Regions from separate parts of the Homo sapiens genome. Here region 1 is linked to region 2. The links come from fine-mapping of genetic effects on gene expression. Tissue or cell type: whole blood. Region 2 holds a variant in brackets; the other region holds the start of a gene. All regions are shown on one strand. Distances are from middle to middle.

Region 1 (4,138 bases), 22 kb before region 2:
GCACACACAGTCCCAAACACACATATGCACTTGGCAAACAGACAACGTTCTCCACACCACAATGAAATCCAAATCCACAGACTGGCCACTGCAAATCATATATGACTGCAAGTGCACACACACACACACACACACACACACACACACACACACACTTTGAAGCAGGTGTCAGCCTCCAAGAAAAAGTGATGGACAGTCTGTCTCTCATATCCTCACATATTTGGTTCACCTGGAGATGGCCTCAGATGAGCCAAGTGACACAGAGGTGCGAGAGACTGAGGATGTGCTGAGGTGTTACCCAGCACTCCAGTAGTGCTATTACCCAACACAAAAATTGGTCTGAATATCAGATTTCAAGCAAGCAAGGGAAACCCAGAAGAGACTGGGAGAAGTCCTTATGGAGGCTAAAGCAACTCCATGTTGGATGCTAATCCACAGTTTTGGCCGTGTTGGCTTTGGAGCCTCCCAGAAGACCTCTGAGATTCCCAATTTATCAATTGCTCCTTGTGTAAGTGCAAACACTTACTGTAAATCCGGCCCTTAGGTCAAACAACCTTGATGTTATCATACTTCAACTGTCCTACACATCTTTTCTGAATCACCCTTCCCCTGTGGTCTATAAGCCCTGGTCCTGGGGGTGAATCATGGAGACACAAACGTAGCTTCTGTTTATAAGTCCTTATTAAATGTTTTTTTCGAAGAAACTGGATGTGTCAGCCTGTAACCTGCAAAAGGATCTGGCTGCTCTCTGCTTGTAGAAAGAATGGATAATAAAGGAAAATCTGCTAGCTGCCATGCTAGCAGGGGAAGAGCAGCAAACAATTCCACTCTTCAATTCATGGGGGGAACGCAGGGGTTTTTTAAGAAAGGATCTGAAATGCAGAAAAGGCAAGGGGGAGGTTAGGAGGTACCAGGTGGTGTGACTTGCTCCAGTGGTCCTCTTTAATTATCGTCTTATTTGGTGGAGGGGCTGGTGCAATCGTGGATCCTGCCAGGTTATAAATTAGTTACTCTTCAGCAGGGTATATGTTCAACTCCTGAAGTAAGCTTTTGTTGGAGAGAGAATTCCGGAGGTGCCTGGTCCCTATCAGGACGCAGCTCCTGAGGCATCTAAGGAAATATATGACCAGGTAAGAGCATAGCGTGTGCTTAACAAGCACGTAGGTAAATAAACGTGCGTAAGGCATGGGAGTACAGTATGGGACAGGAAAGGGAGTGGAGGTCACAGCACGTCCTGAGGCTGTGTTTTAAGATGAGAGGTAACATACATGCAGTTTGTCTCAAAATTATATCTTGAGGCCCAGAGGAGGAAGAGAAAAAAGGAAAGAAGAGAAACTAAGTTTAAAACACGGTTTAAGGCTGGGCGCGGTGGCTCACCCCTGTAATCCCAGCACTTTGGGAGGCTGAGGCGGGTGGATCACCTGAGGTCAGGAGTTCGAGACCAGCCTGGCCAACATGGTGAAACCCCGTCTCTACTAAAAATACAAAAATTAGCCCAGGCGTGGTGGCACATGCCTGTAATGCCAGCTACTCGGAAGGCTGAGGCAGGAGAATCGCTTGAACCTGGGAGACGAAGGTTGCAGTGATCCGAGATCACGCCACTGCATTCCAGCTTGGGCGACAGAGCGAGACTGTAAAAAAAAAAAATAGATAAAAAAATTTTAAAAATCGCGGTTTGAGGCTCAGCTGCTGAGCTGCTGGTTAAAAGCCTCTTTCTTGGGTCTCTCAGCTTCCTGGGACTTTGGGGGCAGGTCTGCATAAACTGCTTAGTTGTGGACCCCCCTCCAACAATTAGGTAGGGGACTACTCAGTATTCATCCATCGGTGTCCTCAGACCCCCAGACGGGGAGGCCCTGGGGCAACGCCAAGACTCACACCGGCGTCCTGGCGCCTTTGCCCTCAAGGGCCTGCAACTACCTCCTCCCCATTCGGAGCGGCCGCGGCCACATCCTTAACGCCAAGCCGGCACGCCAGGCAAAAGCGGCTCGGACGCCCTCACCCCACCTTCCGCACTCAGGGCCGAGGCTGTGCCTGGCCACCTGCTTCCCAGCACATGCACACACGCGCGCGCGCACACACCCACACACACGTACCCACGGCCGGCCGGGCTACCCGGACCACTTTGATCCGAAGGCACTGGAGGCCCAGAGGGAAGGAAAGGGAGGGGTGGCCGGAGCCCGCTAGCGCCCCAGGACAGCCTCGGGTTGCCCCAGGCGGTAGCCCTGTGGGACAGTGGTTCCCCGTCCGCGGCCTCGGGGGCGGGGCGTCTGTAGGCCTCGCCCCGCTGACGTCAGCCCTGCGGGGCGCTGGCGGAGCGGGCGGCGGAGCTGTCAGTCCCAGCCCAAGGGTAGCTGGAGGCGCGCAGGCCGGCTCCGCTCCGGCCCCGGACGATGCGGCGCGCCCAGGATGCTGCCGTGCCTCGTAGTGCTGCTGGCGGCGCTCCTCAGCCTCCGTCTTGGCTCAGACGCTCATGGTAAGGCTCCGGGACGCGGCCCTTCCCTGCCCTGCCCTCTCCGCGCCCGCTCCATTAAAGTTCTCCATCCAGTGGAGAGCCCTGGCTGGCTGGCCCTCTGGCAGAGCGGTGCCCGGGTGCTCCCTTACTCTGGCAAACCTGGATCTCAGGCTCACCTGTTGTGGAAGTGGAAGAGGCTGAAATTGACAGGAACTGACGGATTGGGAAGGATAGAGAAGTATGCGCAAGGCCAAACCCCCAACCCGCAAACCTCATCATCCACCCACTTCTAGATGAGCCGTAAGTTTAGCTCTAGGTTTTTTGCTGTTTAGGTTCAAATGATGGGACTTCTTGTCCCCTTGGGGAATAATTTTGATCTCCTGACTCTCCCTTCTCTTAGTCGACTCTTCAACTAACCTCTGTCTGTCCTTCTCCCATCTCACCTTCATCCCTCACTGATCACCCCGATCTGATCCCCCTTGCTCCACCTGTAGCCCCCAACTCACTCCCACTGCCCCCTGCCTCTCTCCTCCTAACCCAGCCAGTTCAGGCTTCTAACCCAGTTCAGGCTCCTAACCCAGACAGTTCTCCGGCAAGGTTTCTGCAACTAAGAAAAGTAAACCCCAGAGACAGAATGAAAGAGCCGGGAGTTGGAAGGACCAAGAGCAGAGACAGAGAGCAAGGACCGAAACTGCTTCTTCATGACACCAAAATACAAAGTAAAACATGCAGTCAGCCATTCACGTGATCGAGAGCTGAGTCGGAGATGTGCAGCCCAAATACCACAACGACTCGCTGCATTTTTCACTTTCCGTCTAATGTTTCGAAATCAAGGCACTGACGTGAAGATCAAAGACGGTATAAGAAAGAAAGCAAGAGACAGATGACAGAGTCCTCCCCCCCAAAAAATAAATAAAAAACAGGTGCATGATTAGAGAGATGTAGAGAAGTTAGAACACTAGGGAGCGGGAGCAGAGTCGCTGTCAAATGGAGAGAACTTAGAGGATCAAGGAGGAGAGAAAGGGAACCAACCAGCCGTTGGCCTTGCACATACTTCAGTCTGCTTGATCAACAAGACTCTTAAAGTAGAAATGTTTGTTGCATTCTTACAAAGAAGACAATGCCTTCAGCAGTGTTTCCCATGGTGAATGGTGTGTACTGGGGGTAAAGGGAGAGTAGAGCTAGGAATTGGTATTGAGTATCTCTCCTCGGAGCTACAGGTGCCAGCTCTTGTGGGGATGTCCTCAGCCATGTGTAGAGCCAGAGCTGATTTATTCCATCTGTCCTTGCCCAGCCAGAGGTTGGACATCTGGCTATAGGCAAAGCCCTCCCAGAAACTAGGGAATGAGGCAAGCACTTAGCTTGGGGAGCCCAGGAGACCTATGAAGAGAAGGAGGCAGATGTCAGCAAGCAGGCTGTCTGTGTACTTAGTGAGGTGGCTTTGAGCTGGAGCCTGGGCCAAGCCAGGGTGGGGATCAGGTGTGTGGATGGGGCCAAGCCTAGGAATAGTGCTAGAGCAGGGACAGGGATTGGGCAGAGCCAGGGACTAACACATCTGAGAGCTCATTGCCAACTTGCTTAGCCCTCGGCCCCTGCCTTCTTCCCTGGTAGGCATCAGACTCAGCTTGGCTCTTCTCAGCCCCCACTGCAGCTTCTGATCACAGAGAGCACAGGGCAGTGATTTAG
Region 2 (4,292 bases):
TCTGAAAACTTACTGGCCAGCACCACCTTCTCTCCCATCCTTCACAATCAACTTTTTGAAAGAATTGAAAGACTCACTGACTCCACTTCCAACTGCTTCTGCAGCACTGACAGCTCCAGGGACACCCCGCACATGGTATGCTATAATATGCGAATGGCCGGATGGACTGCCGCAGCAAGCTTGTTGGTCTGGAAATGCTCCAAAGGCAAAGAGGAAGAGGCAACAGCCCCAGGGAGTAGAAAGAATGCTCAGCCACTTTCTGTTCTCTCCACATGAAACTGTCATGTCAGTTCTGGGCCTCAGTCTTCTCATCTGTGAAATGGACACAGTAGTCTTCAAGTTGACTTCTTTAATTAGTGCCCTGGGCACATTGCTACCCCTGAGTGTGCTACATGCAGTACTGACTGTAGGCTCCTGGGCAGCAAAAACCCCTCTGATTTCTCTCTGTGTCCTTTGCACCCAATCAATGCCTAACACATCGCAATGGGTGCTCAATACTCAATAAATTTTGATGAATAAATGAGTGCATGGATGAATGAATTTCTTCCATTCGTGGTAAGGAACTTGAAGAAGCATAGTATCCAAACATGAGAAGGCAACAGTGGTGATGGTAGCTTGTGGCTGAACAGATACTTGGGAGGCATTTAGACTGAGCCTAAAGAAAAGCAGCCTGTATATATCTATTATTTTAAATTTTATCTTCAGGCTTGTCATCTTCCTAGCTGAGTCATATCATGCTGGATCCCTTCCCTGCAATTTTCACCCTACAACTCTTGGGTGTTGTAGGAACTCAGGGCTATAGACCAAATGGGAAGGCAAGGGGATGTGGTCAAGAGACAAGGCAAAGGACCATGAAAACATTCAACATGCATTCACTCTTTGGGCAAACATTCATTGAGCCTCTGTCATGGGCAGGCCCTCTGGAAATACAAAAGGCATCAGACATGATCCTTCTCCTTCTTGGCTCAGTTGTGTAGTACATACACACACACACGCACACGCACACACACACAGGGGTGTCTCCACCCACCTCCTTCTCCACTCCCCACCCCCACCCAGCACTGTGGAACTGATTAGAGTCCATCTGGAGGGAGAAGTAGGTTCTTGGGGGCCAAAGATGTCAGAGTAGCTGCCAGTTTGGACTGAGGCTAGAAGTGGGTGAAAAAGGATTATTCCGAGTTACCTGAGCTCTGAAATAGCCTCCCAGCTGGAAGGGACCTCAGAGTCCTCAGGTCCAATGGCAGCCTTATACAAACAAACACAGCATCAGGGGCTCAGAGAGCTTGCGCTCACCAGCTACAAGGGGAGGAAATGGGACTAGAATAGAAGATGTAACTTCTTTTTTTTTTTGAGACTGAGACTCGCTCTGTTGCCAGGCTGGAGTGCAGTGGTGCAATCTTGGCTCACTGCAACCTCTGCCTCCTGGGTTCAAGAGATTCCCCTGCCTCAGCCTCCCAAATAGTGGGGGCTACAGTCAGGCACCACCATGCCCAGCTAACTTTTGTATTTTTAGTAGAGACAGGGTTTCACCATGTTGGCCAGGATGGTCTCAAACTCTTGACCTTGTGATCCACCCGCCTTGGCCTCCCAAAGTGCTGGGATTATAGGTGTGAGCCACTGTGCCCGGCCGAAGATGTGACTTCTTATACTGCTCACCATCATCCCCCCAGTGGTTCTCTGCTTATCATGAGAAACCGCATCCTCCTGATTAGGGAGGAGTAGACCAACCCAATAGCTCTGCAGATAAAAACTCACTTCCAGCACTGCCCAACCTGTTTT[T/C]TCTTGATTTGTTTTTCAACTTCTTGCTTTCTTTTTTTTTTTTTCTTTTGACAGTCTTGCTCTGTCTCCAGGCTGGAGTCCAGTGGCACAATCTCAGCTCTCTGCAACATCTGCCTCCCAGATTCAAGCAATTCCCTTGCCTCAGCCTCCCTAGTAGCTAGGATTATAGGCACGAGCCACCACGCTCGGCTAATTTTTGTAGTTTTAGCAGAGATGGGTTTTCACTATGTTGGCCAGGCTGATCTTGAACTCCTGACCTCAAGTGATCCACCCGCCTTGGCTTCCCAAAGTGCTAGGATTACAGGCGTGAGCCACCGTGCCCGGCCACACCTGTTGTTTTGCTGGCCTGCTGCTACTCTGGGCAGGCAGAACATTTTCACTTCTGGTCTCCAAGTGTGAGAATTCACCAGGCCACTGGCTTCCTGTTTTGTACCAGATCTGTTTAAATATCACGGCTTCTAGATGGTTTTAGATCACTAAGCAGTTTTTAGAAATATAATAATGATCCTCCCATCTGCTCCCACTTTGAGTTTCTCAGACCCCTGGAGCAGAGAGTGGAGCACCAGAGACTCTGGCCTCCTGGCTCCTGGCACCAGGCCCCCTCCAATGCCACTGGCATGGGACAAGACCATTAAGATTTGAAGAAGAACCTAGAGGAGAGAAAAGCTCCCTCTTCACCTGCCAGCCTTGTCACGGTTTTGATCATTCCTTAGGTTATCCTTTAAGATAGAAAAATCGTCATCTGTGTGCTCTCTCTCAGAAATGTAACTGATCATGAGCACAAGGTTGAATGTAGTCAAGGATGGGGAGAGATCAAAAGTTTTGGTTTTCAGAGCACCTAGGATTGCACCAGGGATGAAGCAATGCCCAAGATGTTCTGAAGAGAGATTTCAACACAATTTCCTGAGAAGTTCCTGGCTATGGCCAGAGCCATGCAAAGTACCGTGGAGAACTCAGAAGAGGTTTAAAACCTGATTCTGCCTGCAAGAAATGCCCATCAAATAGGAGAAAGCAAGGTTAATTTCAGGGAGACTGGATGCCCCCATGGTGCCTAGCATAGTTCCTGGCATGTTATGGAAGCAGCGTGAATAAATGAATGCAAAGAAATAATCAATAATAAAGTTATGGGGGCCTGAGACTATCTGTATTTAAAATCAGCAGAGCACAAGATCCATGGGTCTTACAGAAGTCTCCCTGGAGAAGGGAAATTTGAGCTGGCATGAAGAATGGGCAGAATTTGGTGATTTGGAGGTCAAGGAAGTTCTAAAAAAACAAAAGGAAGAAAGAGGAGTGGGTCAGTGGGAAGCTCAGAGCTGAGGATGGGGCCTGGGGAGGACTGGGCTCCTGAGCGCCCTTCTCACCACACAAGGAGACCCCAAAAAGAGATTAGAGACCATCTGGAGGGAGGAGTATGTTCTTGGGGGCCAAGGATGTTAGGATAGCTGCCAGTTTGGACTGAGGCTAGAAGTGGGTGACAAAGGACTATAAAGAAAATAGATTCTTGCTTGGCCTTGAACAAATCACTTCACGGCACTCTGGGCCTCTGTTCCCTCACCTGTGAGGCTGTGAGGATGAAGACGCGCATCATAAGCCTCTGCCCTGCACTGATATGTGCTCAGCAAATGTTAGCGTTTCACCCTACAGGTAAAGTTGGTTGGGAATGGGCCAGACTTGGAACCTGGTCAGACACACGCAGAGTCAAGGAAAGGCTAAGTAATGCTTAGAATCCTAGACCACTAGGGAACTGCAGCCATCACCTTTCAACTGCCATCTCCTAAATTAGAAAGATATATTGACACTTTGTACTTGCATCTTTTAATTGTTTACTGAGCACCTACTATGGACCAGGCTATACGCTAAGAACTGAGAATGCAGACGCTTTAAAAAAAAAAAAAAAAAAAGTAGATGAGGTCTTTGCTCTCCTACAGGTAAGAACCAGGAGAAGCCTTGGAAAAATAGTCCAATCTTTTGATTCCAGATGCTGAAATAGATGTCCAAAGAGGTGGAGTAAGTAGCCCATGACCACACAGCACATCAGGGCAGGGTCAGAACCAGACCTTATACTACATTCAGTTCTCATCCTTACGCCCTGATGTCAGCTACATCCGTGAGGGTGCAGACTCTGCTCAGCTCTGGTGCAGCCAGTAGCCAGTTGTGGAACTTGGGTAAAGCATGCTGCTTTTCTGACCCAAGTGCCCCCATATGTAAAACGGGACCAAGAATAATCCCTGTGTCTCAAGCTTGACATAAGGCTCAAAATGCAGTACCATGCAAGAAAAGGCTTTGTGTTCTGTGGACTGTGAACTGTGCAAACAGTCTCTGCTCCTCCTTTTGATCACTAAGCAGTTTTTAAAAAGATAATAATGATCCTCCCATCTGCTCCTACTTTGAGTTTCTCAGACTCCTGAAGCAGAGAGAGGGGCACCAGAGACACTGCCCTCCTGGCTCCTGGCACCTGGCCCCCTCCAATGCCACTGGCATGGGACGAGATCATTAAGACTTCAAGGAGAACT

The links. PIP is the estimated chance that this variant, and not a neighbour inherited with it, causes the effect. A credible set is the group of variants that fine-mapping cannot tell apart.
Region 1: it holds the start of IL10RA, and the variant in region 2 is the best candidate, but not a certain one, in a credible set for the expression of IL10RA in whole blood (TOPMed, PIP 0.60).

The regions. Positions count from the first base shown.
Region 1 is chr11:117,984,062-117,988,199 of GRCh38, forward strand. It overlaps IL10RA (interleukin 10 receptor subunit alpha), which reads left to right and starts at 2,333. Exons shown (of 7, transcript NM_001558.4): 1 at 2,333-2,473. The coding sequence starts at 2,407. RefSeq lists enhancers at 1,761-1,820, 3,211-3,510 and silencers at 2,011-2,110, 2,131-2,410.
Region 2 is chr11:118,006,065-118,010,356 of GRCh38, forward strand. It overlaps SMIM35 (small integral membrane protein 35), which reads right to left. Exons shown (of 5, transcript NM_001394165.1): 5 at 1-312. Among named protein-coding and RNA genes, the nearest start is that of IL10RA, 22 kb to the left of the region's middle. RefSeq lists a silencer at 3,852-3,901. The variant T/C (reference allele first, on the strand shown) is at 1,780.